Homo sapiens: one gene and its partners. The protein of the gene in region 4 interacts with the protein of the main gene of each other region in a biochemical or structural test. Each region holds a gene or a part of one and is shown on either strand. Other genes may lie near its edges.

The links.
Region 1: the proteins of SLC9A3 (region 4) and APBA3 interact in a test that uses a peptide from one of them, tested with the Homo sapiens proteins (one large-scale study listed by IntAct).
Region 2: the proteins of SLC9A3 (region 4) and APBA2 interact in a test that uses a peptide from one of them, tested with the Homo sapiens proteins (one large-scale study listed by IntAct).
Region 3: the proteins of SLC9A3 (region 4) and DLG3 interact in a test that uses a peptide from one of them, tested with the Homo sapiens proteins (one large-scale study listed by IntAct).
Region 5: the proteins of SLC9A3 (region 4) and LIMK2 interact in a test that uses a peptide from one of them, tested with the Homo sapiens proteins (one large-scale study listed by IntAct).
Region 6: the proteins of SLC9A3 (region 4) and NHERF2 form a complex in vitro, tested with the Homo sapiens proteins (2 studies listed by BioGRID and IntAct, with this or other methods).
Region 7: the proteins of SLC9A3 (region 4) and FRMPD3 interact in a test that uses a peptide from one of them, tested with the Homo sapiens proteins (one large-scale study listed by IntAct).

Annotation. Positions count from the first base shown.
Region 1 is NC_000019.10:3,755,193-3,758,692, reverse strand, and holds part of APBA3 (amyloid-beta A4 precursor protein-binding family A member 3), read left to right. Parts: intron 1-3,500. UniProt on the Homo sapiens protein: May modulate processing of the amyloid-beta precursor protein (APP) and hence formation of APP-beta. May enhance the activity of HIF1A in macrophages by inhibiting the activity of HIF1AN.
Region 2 is NC_000015.10:29,112,974-29,115,894, reverse strand, and holds part of APBA2 (amyloid-beta A4 precursor protein-binding family A member 2), read right to left. Parts: intron 2,020-2,921; coding exon 1,879-2,019; intron 1-1,878. UniProt on the Homo sapiens protein: Putative function in synaptic vesicle exocytosis by binding to STXBP1, an essential component of the synaptic vesicle exocytotic machinery. May modulate processing of the amyloid-beta precursor protein (APP) and hence formation of APP-beta.
Region 3 is NC_000023.11:70,447,835-70,451,334, reverse strand, and holds part of DLG3 (disks large homolog 3), read right to left. Parts: intron 2,423-3,500; coding exon 2,372-2,422; intron 1,977-2,371; coding exon 1,852-1,976; intron 1,646-1,851; coding exon 1,476-1,645; intron 1,167-1,475; coding exon 1,030-1,166; intron 697-1,029; coding exon 552-696; intron 1-551. UniProt on the Homo sapiens protein: Required for learning most likely through its role in synaptic plasticity following NMDA receptor signaling.
Region 4 is NC_000005.10:514,450-517,949, reverse strand, and holds part of SLC9A3 (sodium/hydrogen exchanger 3 isoform 1 precursor), read left to right. Parts: intron 1-3,500. UniProt on the Homo sapiens protein: Plasma membrane Na(+)/H(+) antiporter. Exchanges intracellular H(+) ions for extracellular Na(+) in 1:1 stoichiometry, playing a key role in salt and fluid absorption and pH homeostasis.
Region 5 is NC_000022.11:31,215,298-31,218,797, forward strand, and holds part of LIMK2 (LIM domain kinase 2), read left to right. Parts: intron 1-3,500. UniProt on the Homo sapiens protein: Serine/threonine-protein kinase that plays an essential role in the regulation of actin filament dynamics. Acts downstream of several Rho family GTPase signal transduction pathways.
Region 6 is NC_000016.10:2,036,902-2,039,526, reverse strand, and holds the end of NHERF2 (Na(+)/H(+) exchange regulatory cofactor NHE-RF2), read right to left. Parts: intron 2,573-2,625; coding exon 2,529-2,572; intron 1,990-2,528; coding exon 1,927-1,989; intron 1,771-1,926; coding exon of another isoform or gene 1,741-1,770; exon of another isoform or gene 1,702-1,740; coding exon 1,543-1,701; 3' UTR 501-1,542; downstream 1-500.
Region 7 is NC_000023.11:107,557,652-107,561,151, reverse strand, and holds part of FRMPD3 (FERM and PDZ domain-containing protein 3), read right to left. Parts: intron 896-3,500; coding exon 759-895; intron 426-758; coding exon 299-425; intron 1-298.

The DNA of each region.
Region 1 (3,500 bases), on a different chromosome or scaffold from region 4:
TTGGCCAGGCTGGTGTTGAACTCCTGACCTTGTGATCCGCCCGCCTTGGCCTCCTAAAGTGCTAGGATTACAAGCGTGAGCCACCACGCCTGGCCAAAGAATACTATTTCTTGACATGTGAAAATGATATGCTAGGCTGGATATGGTGGCTCACACGTGTAATCCCAGCTCTTTGGGAGGCTGAGGCAGGAGGATCGCTTGAGCCGGGAGTTGGAGACCAGCCTGGGCAACGTAGCAAGACCCCATCTCTACAAAAAATGTTTAAAGTTAGCCAGGTGTGGCGGTGCATGCCTGTAGTCCCAGCTACTCAGGAGGTTGAGGCGGGAGAAGTTCTTGAGCCCAGGAGGTCGAGACTGCGGTGAGCTGAGATCACCCCACGCCACTGCACTACAGCCTAGGCAACAGAGCGAGACTCTGTCTCAAAAATAAAAAAATGCAATTCAAATTTCAGTGTGCATAAGCTGGGCGCGGTGGCTCACGCCTATAATCCCAGCACTTTGGGAGGCCAAGGTGGGCAGATCACTAGGTCAGGAGTTCGAGACCAGCCTGGCCAACATTGGTGAAACCCCGTCTCTACTAAACATACAAAAATTAGCCGGGCATGGTAGTGCACGCCTGTAATCCCAGCTACTCAGGAGGCTGAGGCAGGAGAATCACATGAACCCGGGAGGCGGAGGTTGCGGTGAGCTGAGATCACGCCATTGCACTCCAGCCTGGGCAATAGAGTGAGACTCTGTCTCTAAAAAAAGAAAAACAAATTTCAGTGTACATAAATAAAGTTTTATTGGTACACATCATGCTTGGTTATTCATGTGTTGTCCATGGCTGCTCTGATGTTCGAATGGCAGAGGTGAGTAGCTGCAGCAGATACCTTGTGACCTACAAGGCTGAAAATATTTACTCTTTGGCCCTTTACAGAAAATGTTTGCCAAGCCCTGCCCTAAAAGCATGGGAAGAACAATTTCTGGCCCTCTGGAATGTTCTAGACTTTTTTTTTCAGTGGTGCAATCTCAGCTCACTTCAACCTCTGCCGCCCGGATTCAAGTGATTCTCCTGCTTCAGCCTCCTGAGTAGCTGAGATTACAAGCGTCCGCCACCGTGCCCAGCTAATTTTTATATTTTTAGTAGAGACGGCGTTTCACCGTCTTGGTCAGGCTGGTCTCAAACTCCTGACCTTGTGATCCACCCGCCTCGGCCTCCCAAAATGCTGGGATTACAGGTGTGAGCCACCGCGGCCAGCCTCTGTTCTACACTTCGCTAAGGATATAGGTCAGATAGTAAGTTCTGGCCGGGAAGGGTGGCTCACATCTGTAATCCCAACACTTTGAAAGGCTGATGTGGGAGGATCGCTTGAGCCCAGGAGTTCGAGACCAGCCTGGGCCACACAGCAAAACCCTGTCTCCACAAAAATAAAATCCCCCCCCAAAATTAGCCAGGCACGTGGCATGGGTCTATAATCCCAGCTACTTGGGAGGCTGAGGTGGGAGGATCACTTGAGGCTGCAGTGAGCTAAGATTGTGCCACTGCACTCCAGCCTGGGTGACAGTGAGACCATGTCTCAAAAAAAAGAAAAAAAAAAACAGTTCTGTGGTTGCAGAGAGAAAAACTGGTTTGAACCTATAGCTCTAAGAAGGTTCTAGAATCGAGCAGAGCTGTGACACCTAGGGAGTTCCAGGGCTTGGCATTTTGTCTGTTTCTAGGGTAAAGGAATCTGGGCTGATGAGAATGCTCAGAATTGGTGAACAGAGGCATCTGGTTCTACTCAGACTGGAGAATTCTAGAACCATGGAGGGAATAGTTATCTAGTGTTCTATAACCCTGGGCAGAGCTGTCCAATTATAGTGTAATCAGAAAGTTCTAGATGGAACTACAATAGAAATACAACGTGAGCCATATGTGATTTAAAATTTTGTAGTTATCCACGTTAAAAAATTAAAAACAGGTGAAATAACTTTTTTTTTTTTTAAACTGAGACGGAGTCTCGCTCTGTCGCCCAGGCTGCAGTGCAGTGGCACGATCTCAGCTCACCGCAACCTCCGCCTCCCAGCTTCAAGCGATTCTCTCGCCTCAGCCTCCTGAGTAACTGGAACTATAGGCATACGCCACCATACCTGGCTAAGAAATTAACTTTAATAACATTTTAATTAAGCTAACATATTTAAAATATTATTTCAACATACAATCAATATTTTTAATTTACTTTTTTATTTTTTTGAGACACAGTCTCACCTTGTTGCCCAGGCTGGAGTGCAATGGCGCAATCTTGGCTCACTGCAACCTCTGCCTCCTGGGTTCAAGTGATTCTCCTTCCTTAGCCTCCCGAGTAGCTGGGATTACAGGCGCCTGCCACCATGCCCAGCTAATTTTGGTATTTTTAGTAGAGACGGGGTTTCACCATGTTGGCCAGGCTGGTCTCAAACTCCTGACCTCAGGTGATCCGCCCGCCTCTGCCTCCCAAAGTGCTGGGATTACAGGCGTGAACCACCATGCCTGACCTTAAATTACTTTTTTTCATACCAAATCTTCAATATCTAGTGTGTATTTTCTATTTACATCTCTATTCAGTCGAGCCACATTTCAAGTCTGTGATAGATACATGTGCCTGGTGGCTACCACAGTGAATGACGTATCTCTCTAGAACCCCAGAGTGGAGCTCTTGTTCCAGAATGCTTAGATCCTGAAGGATAGTGGGCAGAACCGACTGTGGTGTAGGGTGAATTTCACTTAGTGGTGTCCAGAACGGGGCCCTACACCCGTGGTTCTAAACCAAAGAGCCGTAGTTACTGGTTAGAATGTTCTAGGGCCACTGGCAGAGCTGTCTGGCTCTGGGTAGCTCAGGGAATTCTAGAACCATGAGAGTAAAGCTTTTTTTTTTTTTTCCTTTTTGTTTTTGGAGATGGAATCTTGCTCTGTCACCCAGGCTGGTGTGCAGTGGTGCGATCTCTCTCGGCTCACTGCAACCTCCACCTCCTGGGTTCAAGTGATTCTCCCGCCTCAGCTTTCAAGTAGCTGGGATTATAGGCACGCGCCACCACGCCCAGCTAATTTTGTATTTTTAGTAGAGACGGGGTTTCGCCATGTTGGCCAGGCAGGTCTCGAACTCCTGACCTCAGGTGATCCACCCCCCCCCCCCGGCCTCCTAAAGTGCTGGGGTTACAGACGTGAGCCACCGCACCCAGCCAGGAGTAAAGCTTTATGTAGTTCTGGGCTGGGTTGGGAGTATTCTGGAACTGTCTAGAATTCTCCTGGAACAGAATTGTTTGTTCCTTGACTGGTCAGGTAATTCTTAGAATCCCTGGTGTAGCCAAAGGTGTGAACTACTGAAGGAGATTCTAGAACCACAGGAAGAGCTGCCTGACGCGATTGTGATTAAGATGTTCTGGAATCACGGAGCAGAGAAGTCTGATTCTAGAGTGATAATAAGATTCTAAAACTCCTGACAGAATTGCTATGAGACCTGTCAGAGAGTTCTGGAATCAAGGGTCAGAACCAGCTGGGGT
Region 2 (2,921 bases), on a different chromosome or scaffold from region 4:
CTCCTCAGGCAAGCAGGTCTCGGGCCCTGGGCTGAGCAGCCCAGAAAGGCACATCGCGCAGCTCTGCTTCTGAGCGTTGCCCTCCCTCCCCCGCCGGGATCTGTGTGGCCGATGTAGGTTTCCGCTGCTCCTGCTCCCGGCAGGGGCTTCCTCCATCAGCCATTCCCCGGCGTTCCTCAACCAGAAACCCACCCCGAGGCCCCTCGCAACTGCAAGCCTTGTTTATCAGCGACTCATGTTCCGCGTGGGCTCAGAGCTGCTGGAAACAGGCACCATAACCTCGGCAGGGCTGAAAGGATTCCAACGCCCCGGCCGCCTCCTGCCTCTTCCCCGTTCTCCCGCCCGCTCCTCCACGGGTGGATTTCCTCACAGGTGTGGGGCTGCTGGCCGTGGGGGCGGCCGCTTCAAAGCATCTACTTGGGAACACTGGCTTTTCCTTTCTTTGAAGCCATCAAAGGGAGGCTGGTGTCCGCCTGGCCCCTCCTCCTCCTGAGCCAGACCCCTGCCCCCACCAGTCCAGGGAAAACAGGCCTCCCAGCTCCCAGCCGACCCTGCAGTGCACAAAATACCAGTGTCCCGATGTGGCTCCTGGAGACCTCATCCGAAGAACAGGAACTAGAGACCCCTCCACCCACCCGCCCACCCACAGGCTGCAAGGATGGTCGCCACGCACTCAGCCTCACAGAGCCACCAGGGGGAGCACCACAGACGGCCCGGCCTGCTGCTGCTGTCCCCAGACCCAAATTCCCTGCCCGGTCCCCAGCGGGCCCCTCTGTAGGCCGGGCTCCTCAGCTCTCAGCCTCCCGCCTCGTGCGGCCACCACGCTTCCCAGAGAGCCTGCAGCCCCTTTGTGCTGAACACCCCTTCACACACCCCTACACACACACAGACACACCCACTCACACTCTCCTCACACCCCATGCCTCACACCCACTCACAGACCCACAGCCACAGCCGTGCACACATACACACTCATGCTTGACACCCCATGCTCACACACACCCACAGCCACACACCCCTGCACACACCCACACTCGCACTCCTACACACCCCATGCTCTCACACACACACGTACATCCGCATACACTCACCCACACACACACACTCCTCCACACGCACACTCAGGTACATTCACACAGCCACACACCCACACCCATCCACTCATGCACCCCTATACACCCACGTGCACGCACACACTCATTTCCCACACCTACCCACACTTACCCACACTCATACATCACATCCCACACACACCCATGCTCTCACACATCCACATGCACACACCCACACTCGCTCACACTACACACACACACACACGCACACCCGCTGCGCACTGGCCAGGCCTCCCCCGGTGTATGTGCCACCTCCCCAGCACCATCCCCCCTCCCAATGATCCTGCCTCCTTGTGAGCTCTGGAGGAAAACCTGCACCTCCCCCACACCATCCTCACACTGCCGTGGAAGCGATGCCAGAAAGAACTGGACTGTGGGGGGTTCAGCCAGTGAAGTGGGACAGGGCAAGCAGCCTGGCTGTGGGAGGGGATGGCCAGCAAGGGCAGAGAGGCAAGCCTGCCAGGGTGGCCAGAGCTGTGTGCCCTGCAGAGCTTCTGAACTGGACATACAGGTCCAGTCCCAAAAGTAGTGTCCAGGGAGCACCCCCAGCAGCCTGTGCCCTCCCGGTTGCTCAGTTAGAGCCAGACCGGGATGGCTCCGCATCACCTGCCGCTCCATTCACCCTTGTCACAGCAGCCCCGATGGGAGACACAGCCTGGCTGACCTTCAGATGCCCTGTGTCCTCTGGAGCGGGGGAGGCTCATGGAGGGCAGGCGGGAGCACGTGGGAACCGGCATGCAGAGGCACACTCAAAGTCCCTCCTTACCTCTCCGACCGAGTTGGACAGAGCTTGGACTATCTTCTCGTGGGCTGTGGCCACCACGCTCTGCCCGTTGATCTCGATGATGCGGTGGCCCACACGGACGCCCCCTCGCTCAGCAATGCCCCCTCTCATGAGGCTGCAGATCTAAGCAGACATGGCCAGGTCAGCACACGTGTTCCCGCCACACCCGACAGGCGCTCCACCACGTCCCCAAAGATGGGACATGCAGAGGGAAAAGCGCCACATGATGAATACGTGCACGTGCAATTCGCTGACTCACAGACAGAGATCCTTATGATATGCAGTATGTTTCTTTAAAACAAGAGAGTTAATGCCATGGTGTGTGGGGAACCACCAAGTTTTCTGACTCCCACGGTGGAACCTGTCCCCCAGCTGCACCTCCCCCAGGGCCGCTCCCTTTGTGGTCAGGCTAGAGACTGGTGACACAGCCCAAGGCCACTGCCACCTGGCCTCCTACGGCACAGCCTGGTTACCATCCTGGAAGACAGGCACTTAGCTGATGGGCGGGCGGGAAAGGAGAGGCAGCCTGTCCCCTGGCCACCAGAAAGGTGGGGCATCTGTTCTGTCAAGGGAAGGCTCTGTTTGCCGGATGCCCAAATGGTCTACATCGACAGGGAAGAGTCACTTTATTCCTACATCCCCCCCCCGCCAAGTGACGTAAGGGCATTTTGTGCCAAATATACTGGTTCTGGTTTTGTTGGAGACAGGGTCTCATTCTGTCACCCAGGCTGGAGTGCAGCGGTGGGGGCTTCCATTCCAGCCTAAAAGTGACGCCAAACAGATGGACAGGAGGGCCTGGGAGCGCCTGTGACCACGAGACTGGACAGAATGGAAAACAGGCGCCGTGCACACCCGTGTTCACAGCAGCAGTGTTCACAACAGCCGAGGGTGACAGCACGGACTAGCGGAGAAACAGAATGTGCTCTAGGCCTGCAGGGAAACAGTACTCAGCCCTGGAGAGGAGGGAGAGTCTGAAGTGTGCTACAACACGGACAGACCTCGGGGACACTATGCTGCATGAAACA
Region 3 (3,500 bases), on a different chromosome or scaffold from region 4:
GGTCAGGAGATCGAGACCATCCTTGCCAACATGGAGAAACCCCGTCTCTACTAAAAATACAAAAAATTAGCCAGGCATGGTGGCAGGCACCTGTAATCCCAGCTACTCGGGAGGCTGAGGCAGGAGAATTGCTTGAACCCAGGAGGTGGAGTTCGCAGTGAGCTGACATCGTGCCACTGCACTCCAGCCTGGCGACAGAGCAAGACTCCGTCTCAAACAAACAAACAAAAAAACAAAGACAGAACTGGGATCTGGACTCAGTTCTGTGCACTATCCTCTGCGGCTTCTCTCTCTCCTCTTTTTAAAATTCACTCTCCATAGAAATTGTCAAAAATTGCCAATGCTGACTCTATGGCAAGTCTTCACGATGGGGTACTGAGCAAAGTTTTCAATTAGCAATAATGGCGCCTCAGATAAACCTTATTGGCTGCTACAGTGCCACCACTGAGCAAAGCTGCTTGCCCTCTCTTAACAAAGGGTATGAACTTCTTCCCCTCCAGAAACCAGGGGACAGAGCTTTAGACCAGGGACAGGGGCTGATGAGTACGTACTGCTGGCGTAGTCAGGGGGAGCGTACATGTCGTTGAGGTGGAGGCTGCCTGGCTTGGCCACCTTCAAATACACCATATCAGATGTGTTCTTCAGTGAGGCCACAGCTTCCTCGTGCCTCACATCCTGCAGATTGGTGTTGTTCACCTAGAAGAGGAGAGGCCTCAGGCTGGGACTTGGAAGAAGGAGAGGCTTCTCCAGGGAACTCGAGGGATGCCTTTTCAGTGAAATTCAACAGCATGCTAACAAAGGCCCAAGTATAGTGCTGTGAGGAGCAGAGGCAGGAGGTAGGGGATAGGGCAAGACCCTGGCCACAGAAAGAATTAGGGCCTTTGTATCTGGGCAAACACAACACAGATGATAACTCTTGAAATTCCCCCATGATGCCTCATCCCTGAGTGAGGTTTAGGCGGAGTAAGGGGTACTGGAGCTCCTCCTCCCTACCCTACCATTTGGGCATCCCCATGAAGTCTGTCTCACCGCCAGCAGCCGGTCCCCAATCTGTAGGCGTCCATCCTTCTGAGCAGCACCCCCCTCAATGATCTTGGTGATGTAGATGCTGTTGTCTCCTGGGATGTGCTGGTTGCCAATACCCCCAGCAATGCTGAAACCCAGGCCTGAGCGGGAGCCAGCAGGAGGTGGGAGAGGGCCACAAGGAGAGGTTAAAGTGTTGTCGATCCCAAATCCAAACCCCCTCCCCCAGCCAACCCACTGGCCCCACAGGAGCTCCCCCCGGGGGATCCAAACGCTAAGCTGCCATCCTGAGATGAGTAAGGGTGAGGCCTGAGGTCAAAAAAGTAGGCTGTGAGTTGGAACAGGGGGAGTCAGGCAAGGAGTAAGGCCATTCCCTTCCAATTCCCTATGGGGCAAGATGGGATCTGGGGCCTAAGGCTCTGGCTGGAGCACAGGAACCTGGAGGGCCGCACCTTTGGGCCCTTTGAGCAGGTTGACCTCCATGATGGTCTCGGGTGGAGGCTGTCGCCTCCGCACCACCAATCGCACCACAGGGCCTGCCTCCTTCAGCGCCTCCACCGCCCGGCTGTGTACCACCTCCGACACGTCCACCTCATTCACCCGCAGCACACAGTCATTCACCCTGTGGGGGAAGCCCGAGAGGCATGACACTGTGCCCCTACCCCTCCACCCCCTCTCCTGCTTCCTCCCACTTCTCTGTCCTCCCCTCCTCTGCCCTCCCACCCCGCCCTCAGATCTAATGGAAGGGTCATCCTGCCAGGCAGGCTTTCCTCCCCTCATCTCGATCCTGTCCCTGCCACCCACAACCCTGCTTCCAGGCCATCTCACCCCAGCCTCCCATCCATGGCAGCTGCTCCACCAGGGATAATCTTGGTAATAAAGATGCCAGGGTCATCAGGGACATGGGGATTGTCGATGCCACCTGCGATACTGAAGCCCAGGCCAGAGTTGCCCTGCAGAAGTGGGTGGAAAGGCACAGTCTGTTCACTCTGAGGGCACAAAGGAGAGTTCTGGGTACCTCATCTCCCCTTATATCCCAGAGCTAGTTCTCCAGGCCTCAGAAGGGGCCATGGCAGGCTGGGCACATTTGTCAGACACCCAGCCTCTGCTGATCATTTTGGGAAACCCATCCCCTCCCCAATTCCCCAGGCCTCAGTGAGCAAGGTCAATTAATATTTGTTAGTGGGTTGATTGATTGATGCAGTGAAGCAGCCTCTGAGGGCCGCTGTTTCACCATCCTCTAAATGCAGGTCCCCCCATGGGTCTTGAAACCATGATTCAGGGGTCTCCCTTATCCTGGCTCCAACCCTCTCCTTCCCTTTCCGCTTTTCCCCACTGGCAGACTCACCCTCTCAAGTACGATTTCCTCATATTTGAACATGCCATCACTGCCATTCACCTAGGGGGAGACACAGGCAGTTCCCTTAGTGCCCCCTGCCCTTCCAGCCATCTGCCCCTTAGTCAACCTGCCTCCTCCCCTACTCCCACAGAGTAGAAGAGCCCAAGTGCACCCCAGGTCACCTCTTGGCCACAGATGAGGACAGGCTGACCTGGAAGAGGCCGCTCCTCACTCACCCCACCAATCCCTGCTTTGCTTCCAACCATATCAGCCCAAACCAAGCTGCTCATTTAGCCCAGATCAATTGTCTGAGACTGAGCCAGCCAGTGGTGCACTCACCGAGAGGCTGTGCTTCAGTGTCTCAGGGTTCACTAGGAGGGGTGCAGGCCTGGCCTAAGGGGGATGGCAGAGATGGAGCATGGCAGGCAAACCATGCCACACCCAGTGTCCATAGGGGATACCCAGTGGCCTAGACAGATAACCCTTCCCCTTCTGAACCACAGTTCTCCCTGACTGGGGGATCATAGACTCCCACTGTGTCCGAACTGGAAGGACAGCAGACATCATCTTGTCCTATCCCCTTTATGTGACAGTAGGTGACACGGAGGCCCAGAGAAGACATGGGATGTGCCTAAGGGCACACTGGGAATTAGTGACAGAGCAATAGGATATCCAGGTGTTCTTTTGATTACAGTAAGCTCTTAAGGCCACTGATGTTTTGGTCACTCATCCCCGTACCCCAGCAGAGCTCATGGGAAAAAGGACAGTTGCCCCACTTTGGAGCACCTCGTGAGTCTTCACTCTATACCTCTTTCTTGGACTCCAGGAACCCAATTCCTCAAATAGGCAGAAGGAGTCAAAGTCCTAATCCATTTTCTACCAAAGGATTTTTGATTCTGAGCCCTTTGTTTTTCCCAGCAGAAAGGGCGAGGGTGGGATCTGGTCAGGAGTCAGAGACAAAGCCACGGGTGGGACTGGAGCAGGGTAGACAAGATTCCCCATGAGGGAGAAGTTGGTGACCCACAGGCTGATTGGCAGCAGAGTCCATGGTTTTCAATATGTAGTAGCCATGCAAGAAGAGGCAAGGGAAGGGGTCAGAAACACAGGGGTGATTTGGCCAACCCACAGAGATGGCCTC
Region 4 (3,500 bases):
GATGAGCGAATGGATGAATGGAGTGAATGGATGGATGGATGGATGATGGGTGGATGGATGGATAAGTGGATGGATGGATGGATGAGTGAATGGTCAGATGGGTGGATGAGTGGATGGATGGATGGATGGATGGATGGTTTGGATGGATGGATGGTTTCGGTGAATGGACGAGTGGATGGATGGGTGGATGGATGGATGGATGGGTGAATGGATGGATGGGTGGATGGCTGGATGGCTTGGGTGAATGGATGGATGGGTGGATGGATGGATGGATGGATAGATGGATGAATGAATGGATATATGAATGAGTGAATGGATAGATGGATGAGTGGATTGATAGATGGGTGAGTGAGTGGATGGATGGATAGGTGGATGGGTGAATGGATGGATGGGTGAATGGATGGATGAGTGGATTGATGGATGGATGAGTGAATGGATAGCTGGATGGATGAGTGGACTGATGGATGGATGAGTGGATGGATAGATGGCTTGGATGAATGGATGAGTGAATAGTTGGATGGGTGGATTGATGGATGGATGGATGAATGAATGGATATATGGATAAGTGAATGGATGGATGGATGAGTGGATTGATGGATGGGTGGGTGAGTGAACTCATGGATGGATGAGTGAATGAATGGATATATGGATGAGTGGATAGGTGGATGAGTGAATGGATGGATGAATGAGTGAGTGAGTGAATGGACAGATGGATGGATGGCTGATGCGTGAATGGTTGGTGGATGGATGAGTGGATTGATGGATGGATGAGTGAGTGGATGGGTGAATGGATGAGTAAATGGAGGGATGGGCGGAAGGATGGGTAGATATGTGGATGGATGGATGGATGGATGAGTGGATGGATGGATGCACCCACAGGTGGGTGAAGGAGGAATGAACGAATGAGTGGATGGACAAATGGATGGATGAATGCACACATGGGAGAGTGAAGGAGTGGAGGGATAAACATTGGCTTCCCATGTGTAAGCTTCATCCAAAACCATCTGGACACTGGGCCCAGGAAGAGGCTGTCTCAGCTCCTCGGCTGAATTATTTCCTTAAATTACTGCAGAGCCTCCAGTGAGCAGCACACCTACTTCTGGATGACAATGGCTTTAGAGGCGCCGCCTGCCAAGGAGTGGCAGACTTAACCTGCAAAGTGGGATCATTGACAAGCAATTGCAGCATCGGCTCAGAGCACTTTGGCAGATCTGGGCTCAGCATGGTGAGCACCATCTGCCCCACACAGAGCTCTCTCAGGAGTGGGTCATGTGCCCAGAGAGAAACCACGCTCACCTGGCCTAAAACATGCTCCACTGTCAGCTGAAATCTTAGCTATGCCTTAGCTATATGCCTTCTGGAATAAGACAGACAAACCCAGCCCCATCCTGATGTTGCCAGACCTCGGAAGATGCAGACACACCCTGGGCAGGCCCTGACTTGGTGCTGGAACTGCCCAACCTGGCACCCTCCTGGGACACAGAATAGAACTCGGGTCACAGGCAGCCAATACCCTTAGCATACCAACCACTTTTAGGAGCTTGAATGGTCTCATCCGTCTTATCGAGGTAGCCCAAAATGCTGGACTTTGCAGCAGCCAGCGCTCTGGGCAATGGAGGAGCTCTCTCCAGTTTAATATTCATTCAATAAACATTCAGTGCCCATCACGCCCTGTAGGCAGTGGGGATCCCACTTCAAATGAGACCCAAATATCCCATGGGGCAGCACTCCTGGGCACCAAGGACCAAAGACAGTCAGGAAGCCATCCCTGGGGCAGAGGGGGCAGCCAGCCCTGTGGGTTAGGGGGAAGCATGTCCAGGGAAGGGATAGCCAGAGCGAAGTGCCCGAGGCAAAAAGTGTGGATGAGGGTTAGGGGGAGAGTGTGTGTGTGTGTGAGGGGCAGGGGGAGTGTGTGTGTGTGAGGGGGCAGGGGGAGTGTGTGTGTGTGAGGGGCAGGGGGAGTGTGTGTGTGTGAGGGGCAGGGGGAGTGTGTGTGTGTGTGTGAGGGGCAGGGGGAGTGTGTGTGTGTGAGGGGCAGGGGGAGAGTGTGTGTGTGTGAGGGGCAGGGGGAGAGTGTGTGTGTGTGAGGGGCAGGGGGAGTGTGTGTGTGTGAGGGGCAGGGGGAGTGTGTGTGTGTGTGAGGGGCAGGGGGAGTGTGTGTGTGTGAGGGGCAGGGGGAGTGTGTGTGTGTGTGAGGGGCAGGGGGAGTGTGTGGGTGTGTGAGTGGCAGGGGTTGTGCATGGGTTTGTGAGTGGCAGGCGGTAATGTGTGGGTGTTTCAGGAGCAGCGGGATGTGTGTGTGTGTCTGAGGAGCAGGGGACCCTGTGGAGGATAAGCAGGAGCAGCAGGTGGTCCTTGCACTCTGGCCGTGTGATGACCATGTTCAGCTCTGGGTTGCTCCCTCACATTGGCGAGTGCCCTTACAAGCCTGAGCTCTGGGCTCCCTGTTCTATCCGACTGCCAGCCTTCCCTTGGGGCTGGCTGTGTGTCAAGTCCATTTCCAAAGTGTCGTGTCGTCAGTCTAGGAAGAATTGAGATGGAGCCTGGGGCCGTGTCCAGGTGGAGTCAGGAGAGCAGCCAGGGTGCCCAAGGGGTTCCCGTGTGTGCACCGTCCACAGGGGCCTGAAAGGAAGGAGGGAGGGGCGGGCAGAGCAGGAGGGGCTGTGGGAATTCCACAAATGGGGAGCGGCACATCCTGGGAATGGGCCTGGCCGTTTGTGCTGCTGTGCTGGGGGTGGTTAGGGCTGTGACAGAGACTCCAGGCTGATGGCATGGACTCTGGGGTGGGAGACCGAGAAATCTCCCCATGGACTCTGGGGTGAGGAGTGGGGGGCCGAGAAATCTCCCCATGTCTCCCCATGGAAGGCTCTGCCTTAGGGAAAGACCAGGTGACCTGTGCCAAGCTCCTGGTCCCTGGAGGGCGGCCTTTGAGTGCATCCCCGAGGGCTTTGTGCTGGACCATCCCAGCCGGGACCCCCTATCTGGCTCTGGGAGCCAGCCCTGGGGAGGGACAGAGCCAGGGTCCCCTTCTGGACTGTGCAGGGCTAGGGCAGAGGGAAGGAGCGGGAGCCAGGGACGCACTGGCAGCTTCCTCCTTTCTGGTGGATCGGGGAACCTGCAGGCTCACCGCCTGCTGAGCTGTCATGCCAAAGTCCAAGGGTTTGAGTTCTTTGTTGGGAAAGGGTTTCTTTAAGCCTGAATGGGAAAGTTGAAAATGCCTGTTTTTAAGAGCTTTGGGGGTGACACAAAGTGTGGAAGAACAGCAGCTACTGCGGGCTCCGTCCTCAGATTCAGCCCCAGATGTTTGGTGCAGAGGACACGGGGCTGACCAGACGGTGAAGGCAGATTCCCCTTAGAACCCGGCCCTCATGGGGCCCTCAGCGGGCCGTACCACTCCTTCCCCACCTACTGGATGTGGGAGCCACTGGGCAGGACTGCCTGAGGGGCCACAGTGAGCAAAGCCCCCGACAGGCAAGACCCGATGGGCCTCGGGGGGCAGG
Region 5 (3,500 bases), on a different chromosome or scaffold from region 4:
AAACCATGTTCTGAGACACCTCAGATTCCTCGTGTAACCGGAGAATCGATAACAAATCAAATATTTACTGAGTGCCTGTGATGTCTGTGGCACTGGGCAGGACCAAGTTTTACCTCTTATAAATTTTAACAGGTGTTAGAGCCAGGAGAGAGTTTTGAGATAATGTATAGTCTCCTTGTTTTACCTATGAAGAAACTGAGGCTCAGGGAAAAAAAACGGAGTTGTCCAGGGTCACTCAACTAGTGGTAGAGCCAGAACCAAGGTAAGACTTCTGCAGTGTTCTTTCCAGTATTCCAGGCTGCTTAAGACGTACAGGGTCTGGCACATGGTAAGCCCTTAATAAGTATTTGTGGAAATGAGTTATATATAGTTTGTGCCTCTGAGAAACTTACTGTCTAGTTAAGGTAATTAAGGCAAAAAACAAAACTGCCATGCTGATCAGTAGTGGGATTGCGCCTGTGAAAAGCCACCGCACTCCAGCCTGGGCTACATAGCAAGATCCCCATCTCTTAAAAAAAAGAAAAAAATTGATAAGACAAGCTGTTATAAGGCTTGCGTATGATAACATTATAGAATTTCAAAGATGAGGGAGAATTCTCTTCAAACATTTATTCCACAAATATATATTGAGTTCCTGCTATGTGCTAAACTCTTTTGGCCCCTAGGGATACAGCAAGGAACAAGATAGACCAAATCCCTTCCCTCATGTAGTGTATGTTCTGGTGGGGAGAGATAGACAGCAAGTAAATGTATGAACATCATATTCAGGGATAAATCCATTGAAGAGAAGTGAAGTAGGGTAAGGGGATAGAAGAAGTGAGTTGTCAGGGAATGTGTTTGGCATGTTTAAAGAATAGCAGGGTATCCAGGGTGGCCATCAGTTTTGGTTAGGGAATACTTCTTGAAGTGGGTAAGACTTGAGAAATCTTAAATAGGCTTAAAGAAGGTGGGGAAGATGATATCTTAGTAGGGAAGAAACTTTGGGAGTAGGAGACAAAAGTAGGCAAGTTTCAGGTCTTCATAAAGGGTAGCAAATACGTGTGGTAGAGGCAAGGATTGGGAGGTGGAAGATTCATAGGAAGTGGAAGGTACAGCTGAGAATGTGGGTGCAACCGGACTAGAGGGTTTAATGCCAGGCTGAGGATTTTGGAAGTTTCTAGTCTACAGTAGGCACCGTAGGTTTAGAGAAAGGAAGACTCATGATGTGGGCACAGGGCCACCAATCTGGAGGTGGGTATAGTGGGCCCTGAGATGAGGTCTTAGTGGTAGCAATGAAGAAGGCACCAACCAATAAAAGATGCCTCCTGACATAGGCAGGCCAGGGTGACTTGGATGGTCCTGGATATGTGATGGAGCAGGGTAGGGTCCAAAATGACCACAAGATTTCAAAACTAAATAAAAATCCGTCATGATCAAGGGGCTGTATTAGGCTTTCCACATTCATGGTGGATTTTCTGCATCTTCTGGAGGCTGAGCTGATTCCCAGAACAGGGCTGCCTTCTTGTTAGTGTAACCTTGAGCGGGTCTGATAGGGCCCACCATCACACACATCTCATTTCAATGAGAGGACCTGAAACTGTAGCAGTCTCTTACAAGTCTACCTTCTTTCTCATCCTTTATCTATTTTTATATAGTAGAAAGAATTAGACTATTTTACCTATTAATTTACATTGAATAGTAACTAGAACATGAAACCAATGCCTGGTTTCATTAAAGTGTTCCTTGAACATTCTTTCTGGGATTCTTTTTTATCATGTCTTTCTGCCTGTAATTTGTTTTGTCCAGGAAAGAAAGTCTAAAATGTAGTTAAAGACAGGCTTTGAGCCAGGTGCAGTGGCTCACGCCTGTAATCCCAGCACTTTGGGAGGCTGAGGTGGGTGGATCACAAGGTCAGGAGTTCAAACCAGTCTGGCCAAGATGGTGAAACCCCATCTCTACTAAAATACAAAAATTAGCCGGGCATGGGGGCAGGTGCCTGTAATCCCAGCTACTCGGGAGGCTGAGGCAGAGAATTGCTTGAACCTGGGAGGCAGAGGTTGCAGTGAGCCGAGGTTGCACCACCGCACTCCAGCCTGGGTGACAGAGCGAGACTCCGTCTCAGAAAAAAAAAAAAAGACAGGCTTTGGAGACTAGACCTGTGGTCTAATCCCAGCTCAAACATTTATTAGCTGAGTATTTCAGTTTCCTCTTCCGTAAAATGAGAACAATAATAGTTCTTTAAGACTAGTCCTGATCTCATGGGATCTTTGTATTCAGTTAGCTCATACTTGCGTAGTGCTTAGGACATTGTCTGGCATAAAGTAGTTTTTTTCCTCTATCATTGACAACTGGCAGAGAACTGCTGTATGAGAATATATCAATTGGTTAACCAGTTCTCTGATAAAGATATTTTTATAGGCCCTCCATAGATAAGAAAATGCCTACTCATTCACAGTTGAGTGAACTTCTGGTTGGAAGTTGCAGTCTGGGTGGCCTGAAAGACATAAGAACCATCTGTCTCATTTGTCACTGCAGTGTATTTTGTTAATGTACTGAGTTTGCCTTGCCTGTAGCACCTGGTTTGTCCCTCTCTGACATGTTATTTCTGTGTATATCCATGTCCTTCACACCCCATGAGTACACACCAAGGGCCCCAGTAATTCCTGGCCTACTCTGTGCCTTGTACATGGGCACATAGAAAAAAGTTTGCTGAGTTTGTTTTGAAAACCTTCCCTTCAGATTTTAGAAGTTTCTGTATTCAGCTTAACCTTTTCCCCAGCCAACTTCCTAGATACACACGCAGGAAGGAAGAGAAGTTAGTCACAAATCGGTCCAACTAAGTGCCTGGCACCATGGGAGATATTTTCACATCTATTACATTATTTCTATTAATCCACTTGGTAATCCTGTAAAGCAGGTGGTATTATCCTCTTTTTAAAGATTAGGAGACAAGCTCAGAGAGGTCAAATAATTTGCCCAAGGACACAGAGGCAAACAGTGACAGATTCAGGTTTCAAACACACATACATTTACCCCTCACAAATTTTTCCAAATAAACCAAAGAAGGGAAGAAGAGAATAACAGCAAGAAGGAAACTTTCTGAGATACCTGTGTCTGTGCCTTAACCTGAAAAAGGAGAGGCCCTTGGTTTGGTGTCAGTCTCTCAGAGCTGGAAGAAATCACTTGATCCCTCCTTTTACAAAAGAACAATCCAAGGTTTAGAGAAGCTCGAAAGCTCTTTTAAAAATCATCTAATCTTTTTTTTTCCTGAGACACTCCTTTTGGTAAAATTTGGTAAGCTAGTGAGGAAGAAAACCCTTTGGGTTACAGGGAGAGTATCTAGAGGCATGTTAATCCTTACTGTTAGTCTTTTTGATAGTCACTTCATTAAAATGTGATCTTTTTCTCTTGGCTTTTCCCCAGCAGCTGCTGCCCTGCCCTTCTGCTTTCTGCTTTGTCCCAGAACAAGTGGGATTTATACACCTGACCCGCCAGTTCCCAAGGGGCCCAGGGGTTACCAT
Region 6 (2,625 bases), on a different chromosome or scaffold from region 4:
GGCCCCCCAGCTTCCCAGCCCGGACACCGCCAGCTCCTGAACTTTCATGCCCTCAAAGCCCAGCCTCTGCCAGGGTCCCACCCCTGTTTACAGAGCTACCCGGCCTTGAAAGGGACACTGGGGACCCAGGCAGGGCGCCACAGGGTACAAAGCTTGACCTGTGACTGCTAGAGGTCGCAGGGTGAATTGGGCAAAGGGTGGCCCGTGTGGGTGTTGTGTGGGGCCGGATGGCTTCACAGGGAAGGTGAAGGTGGGAGGCTGAGTCTGCCAAATAAGAGAGATGGGCATGGGCCCAGGATGTGCCACACAGCAGGGGGTCCCATGGGGGTCAGCGGGGGAGATGGAGCAGGGCTGGGAGCAGATGGATGCAGGGCACGGGCTCAGGAACGAGACCGTTTCCAGCTGCTGAGACTCGGGGAGGGGGCTCCCTGAAACAGCCTCATCCCTCCACCCCTCTCACCCCACGGGGAGGAGGCTCAGAAAAGACAGAGGCGTGTGGGTCCCAGGCAGGGCCTGTTTATCCTGAGAGCGCGCATGCGCTATGGCTTACGAGGCAACAGCGGTGCCGGTCGATCGGTGGTCGGTTCGGGGGTGCGGGGCCCGGGAGGGAAGTGCAAAGTCAACAGGGTGTCCACGGGGGAGCCCGCCAAGCAGGGCTGAGCCAGAGGCCAGGCGTCCTTCCCGGGTGCCGCTCTCACACACCTACGTTCCCCAGGCCTGGGAGCTGCCGCGCGGAATGAGGGGCCTGTCCAGAGGCCGCCCTCCTCGGGGACGTGGGGCCTCCATCCTCAGGCCCCTCGGAGAGCCCAGGCCCCCAGCAGGGCACAGGCGCACAGGGTAGCTGGGTGGGGAGCAGGGTGTGGCCTAGGGACCCCCACACCAGGGCAGGTGGGCAGGGGCAGCTCCTACGGCCACATCAGGCCTCCCTGGCCTTACCCAAGGTCCCCACGAAGAGGCTGGGCGCCCCAACTTGGCCACTGGGAAGTCCCAGGGACTCCCACTCAGGACGGCCGCTGCTGAGGGGAGGGGGCGGGGAGGAAATGGTTTGCAGAGAAAGGTTTGTTTTATTGCAATTATTTAGAGCGCGTCCCAAGGGGGAGGGGAAGGGGGAGGGGAAGGGGGGGGGTCTCTGGTATTAAGTGGAAACATGTGTGGAGCTGGAGATCTTTTTGGAAAAAAAGCAAAAACACAAATTCCTTTCAGTCAGCAGGCCCCGGCAGAGCAGCAAAGGCCCTCGCCCCGCGGCTGCCGCGCGCTCGCTCGCTCTCTCTCTGTCTCTCTCTGTGTCTCTCTCTCTCTCTCTCTGTCTCTGTCTCTGACTCTCTCTCACATCTCTGGGTCTCTCTCCCCCTATCTTGCTGCCACAGGCCCCCAGTACCTGGTGGGCAGGGGCAGGATGGGGGCTCACCGGGGCTGGGGCTGATTTCTGGGCAATGGCAGGACCACCCTCCAGTCCACTGAGGCTGGGGGAGCTCGGGGCAGGCTGAGGCCCAAGGTCCGTGCGGGAGGGGTCCCAGGGTCCCGAGACAGGCAGGAAGGGGCTCAGAAGTTGCTGAAGATTTCACGCTTCCTGTTCCAGTCCATCTGTGGCGCGCGCTTGTTGACTCGCATGGCTCGAGCCTTCTCCTTGGCCTCGGCCGCCGTGGGGCTCAGGTGGAGGCCGCTCTCCTGGAAGGGATCTTGCTTCCAGGCACTGCCATCCTGGGGTGAGCACGGTGGGTGGGGTGTCTGGAGTGAGCCCTAGTCCCACACCCCAGACGGTGGCCCCTCCTAGGGAGCAACCAACAGAGGCTGCCTGCTGGGGCTGGGGCTCACGAGGACTTCCTGAACAGAGACCCCACTGCCCGGGCTGACATCTCCACAGACGCCTACCCCAAGGCCTCTAGCAACCCCACGTGTGAGCTCAGGAGTGGAGAACATCCATACCTCAGTGTCCTTGTCGGAACCAGGCAGGTCACTTCGGGACGAGCACGCAGAGCCACCATTGAGCTGGGAAACCAAGGGCAGATTGTGGTTTCACAGACACACACAACACCTGCACACGCACACATGTGCACAGAGGCACACCCCCCCCCAGTGTGTGCTCCTCCACTCGGCAGGGGGCCTCGGGCCTCTGGTGGACTCCAGATGCGGCGGGGCAGGCACCGGGCGCCTGGCAGTGACAGGCAGGTGGCCTGGCCGGCTCATGGTGCAGAGGGGGTTCAGGTGCAGGAATGGCCGGCGTGAGCAACGCCTGGGGTGAGGCCACCGCCAGCTCCCTGAGGAGGCAGAGACTGGAGGGCAACTCCTTACCAGGTGGTGCCCAGGAGAGGACAGAAGGCAGTGGCCCCGACCCCAGGGGCCCCACGTGGCTTGTGTGTGGCACGACCCAGGATGAGACCCACAGGGGCATTAAAGGGAGGTGACAGGGCTAAAATCGGGTGTCACTAGCACACCTCGAGGACGGATCTCCAGGGAGAAGGGGGCCTCTGTCGGGCCTGGGTACCCCCAGAGGCACCCTGTGTCTCATGGGCACCCCACCCTCTTACCTGGGCAGGGCTGGTTCCATTGGTGACGGGTGACGGCAGAGGACCTGTGGGGACAGCGTGTCAGTGGCTGCTCAGCCACCACACCGCACCCACCCTG
Region 7 (3,500 bases), on a different chromosome or scaffold from region 4:
TCGGCACTGACTAATTGGTGAAAAGGACCTGAGAATTATCTCCTGCATCTTGGCCCCTTTGCTTTGAGGACCCTGAGCTCTCTCAGTGATGTGTCACTCAGCTGTCTCTTTGGGATGCTCAGGCTTGGGGAAGACTCCTCTCCACAACTGCCCCACACCTGGCCAAGCCGTATGTGCACCTGAGTCAAAAGCAGTGGTGAGGATCCCTAGAGGACCAGACTCTGCTGGGAAACCACCCAGGATCTCCCTGTGGCCAGTAGTGCCTGGAGCACCATGCCCAGTGGTCTACTCTGGATACCTTGGTGCCGCAGGAAGGATGTGTTTGGTGAGCCTTCAGTTGCTGAGAGAGAGATTTCCGGAGGTTCTTCTCTTTGATGACCTGCAGGAGGGAGGGGGGAAGAAAGGGTTCCAGGCCCCACTCCTTCCTAAAAGCAGAAGAAAAGTAAGAGATTAGTGAGAGAGGCAAAGTGGGACAGAGAGAAGATGGTAAGACAGAAATTGACTGAATCTGAGAGGTAGAGATGGAGGAATAGAGACTGGGAGAAAGAAAAAGGGACAGGGATAGGAAAATAACATTAGCCACAGCTCCCTAGTAGAAGCTGTAGCTCTAGGGCTTCATAGTCTAGATATGAGGGACTCCAATTCTCACTCCCATCCCATGTCCTACATTTCTGAAAAGCATAGCATAGCTCAACCAGTGTACCTTTTCCCTACGCAACTATTCGCCCCCCATCCCAACGGGCCGCAGCACAACTCACTCCACATTCTTGAGCGAGATCTTCTGACTAGGTCGAGTGGCTGAGACAGTGATATAGATGTGGAGCGCAGCAAGGCCCAAAAGCATCTCTGGCTTGGGATCCATTCCAAAGCGTTCTCGAATAACATCATTCCGACTCTGTGAGAGAGGGCAGTCCAAACCTATCAGCTGAAGGAGACATTCCTTCCCCACCCCCTGATCTACTCCCTTACATCCCAGACAATACTCATAGTATCAGTAAGGCATGCTAGATCAAGGGACAGAGGAAGGAGCTCCCCTTGGAGAAGAGACAACAGAGGAGGCTCAGGTCTCATAGACACTGTTCACTTTATTCAGCAGATACTAGATAGCCTTCTCAGTGACAGGGGCACACAATGGCAAGGTACAAGCAGACAGTCCAGTTCACTGCAAAAGTGAGACATGGCACCACTCCCTTTCTTTCCTCCTTTTATAAGAGACTTTCCTACTTTTTTTCATGGGGGTTATACTCACCCCCAAGCCATACAAGGCTCCTTTACTAGCTCAGATGGAAACAAGGGGAGAAAGATACTGGGAGGGACTCTCCACAGGGCCCTGGCCCAGAAGCCCAGGGTGAGAGCTGAATTGCAGGGATGGGGGAGGCATTCTTCTTCTTGGTGTCTGAAGGACAAAAATGTTGATGAGTCAATCTTCCCTATGCTATCCTAGAGGAGGTCTCCAGGAACTACTGGCCAAGGGTATGACAACCCCCAAACCCTGAGGGTCACAGCCCCAGCTATCAATGAGTCAGCCTTGGTTAGACCAGTTTCCCATTTTGTTAAAGTGGAACCAGTATGGACTAAGGGACTAGGAAGCCACAGTGATATCACTATAATATAGGAGAGAGTGGAAAAGGAATACATCATCAATGATCATCTATGTAGAAAATTCAGTGGATTCTATTACAAAAAACTACTACAACTACAGTTTTCCCTTGGTATCCATGGAGGATTTCTTCCAGGACCCCCATGGATACTGAAATTTGTGGATGCTTAAGTCCTTTATATAAAATGCTGTGGTATTTGCATGTAACCTATGCAAATCCTCCTGTATACCTCTATCACCTCTAGATTACTTATAATGCCTAATACAATTAAAATGCTATATAAGGCCAGGTGCAATGGCTCATGCCTGTAATCACAGCACTTTGGGAGGCGGAGACTGGTGGATTACCTGAGATCAGGAGTTCAAGACCAGCCTGGACAACATGGTGAAACCCCGTCTCTACTAAAAATACAAAAATTAGCTGGGCATGGTGGCGGGCGCCTGTAATCCCAGCTACTTGAGAGGCTGAGGCAGGAGAATCACTTGAACTCAGGAGGTGGAGGTTCCAATGAGCCGAGAGCGAAACTCCATCTCAAAAAAAAAAAAAAATTGCTATAGTGCTATGTAGGCCAGATGCTGTGGCTCATGCCTAAAGTCACAGCACTTTGGGAGGTTGAGGCAGGTGAATCACTTGAGGTCAGGAGTTTGAGACCAGCCTGGCCAACATGGTGAAACCCTGTCTCTATTAAGAAATACAAAAATTAGCTGGGCGTGGTGGTGCATGTCTATAGTCCCAGCTACTTGGGAAGCTGAGGCAGGAGAATTGTTTGAACCTGGGAGGTGGAGGTTGCAGTGAGCCGAGATCATGGCACTGCACTCTAGCCTGGGTGACAGAGCGAGACTCTGTCTCAAACTAAACTAAAATAAAAATGCTATGCAAATAGTTATTATATTATATTTTTAAATTTTGTATTTTTTATTATTGCACTGTTATTTTTTATTGTTTTTGAATATTTTCAAAATCCACAAATATGGAACCTGTAGATATGAAGGGCCAAATGTAGTGAGTTTACCAAGGTTTCAGGATATAAGATCAATACACAAAAATCAATTGTATTTCTATTCTTTTAAAAATAAATCTTTTTGTATAGAGATGGGGGTCTCACTATGTTGCCCAGGCTGGTCTTGAACTCCTGAGCTCAAGTGATCTTCCTGCTTCAGTCTCCCAAAGTGCTGCAATTACAGACGTGAGCCAACATGCCCAACCCCAACTCTATTTGTATATGCTAGCAAGAAATAATTGAAAATTGGAATTAAAATCAAAATCATTTACAATAGCATCAAAAAATATGAAATAATTAGGGACAAATCTGACAAAACATATGAAAGACCTATATACTGAAAACTACAAAATACTGCTGAGGAAAATTATAGAAGGTATAATTAAATGTAGAAATACTGTGTTCAGGGATTGGAAGGCTCAATATTGTTAGGATGTCAATTGTCCCCAAATTGATCTATAGTTTCAACACAATCCTAATCCAAATCACAGCAGGTTTTGGTAGAAATTATCATGGTGATTCTAAAATTCACATGAAAATGCAAAGGACCTATAATAGCCAAACCAACTTTGAAAAAGAACAAAGTTGGAGAACAAATACTTCCTGATTTCAAGAATTATTATAAAGCTCCAGTAATCAAGAGTGTGATGTTGACATAACGACAGACAAGTAGACCAACAGATCAGAATAGAGAGTACAGGAATAGATCTATATATATATATATATATATATATATATATATATATATATATAGACAACAGATTTTTAACAAAAGTACAAAGGCAATTCAGTGGAGGAAGGATACTCTTCTCAACAAAAGGTGCTATAACAATTGGATATCCATATGCAAAAAAAAACACACACACACACACACACACACACACACGAAACTTTGATGG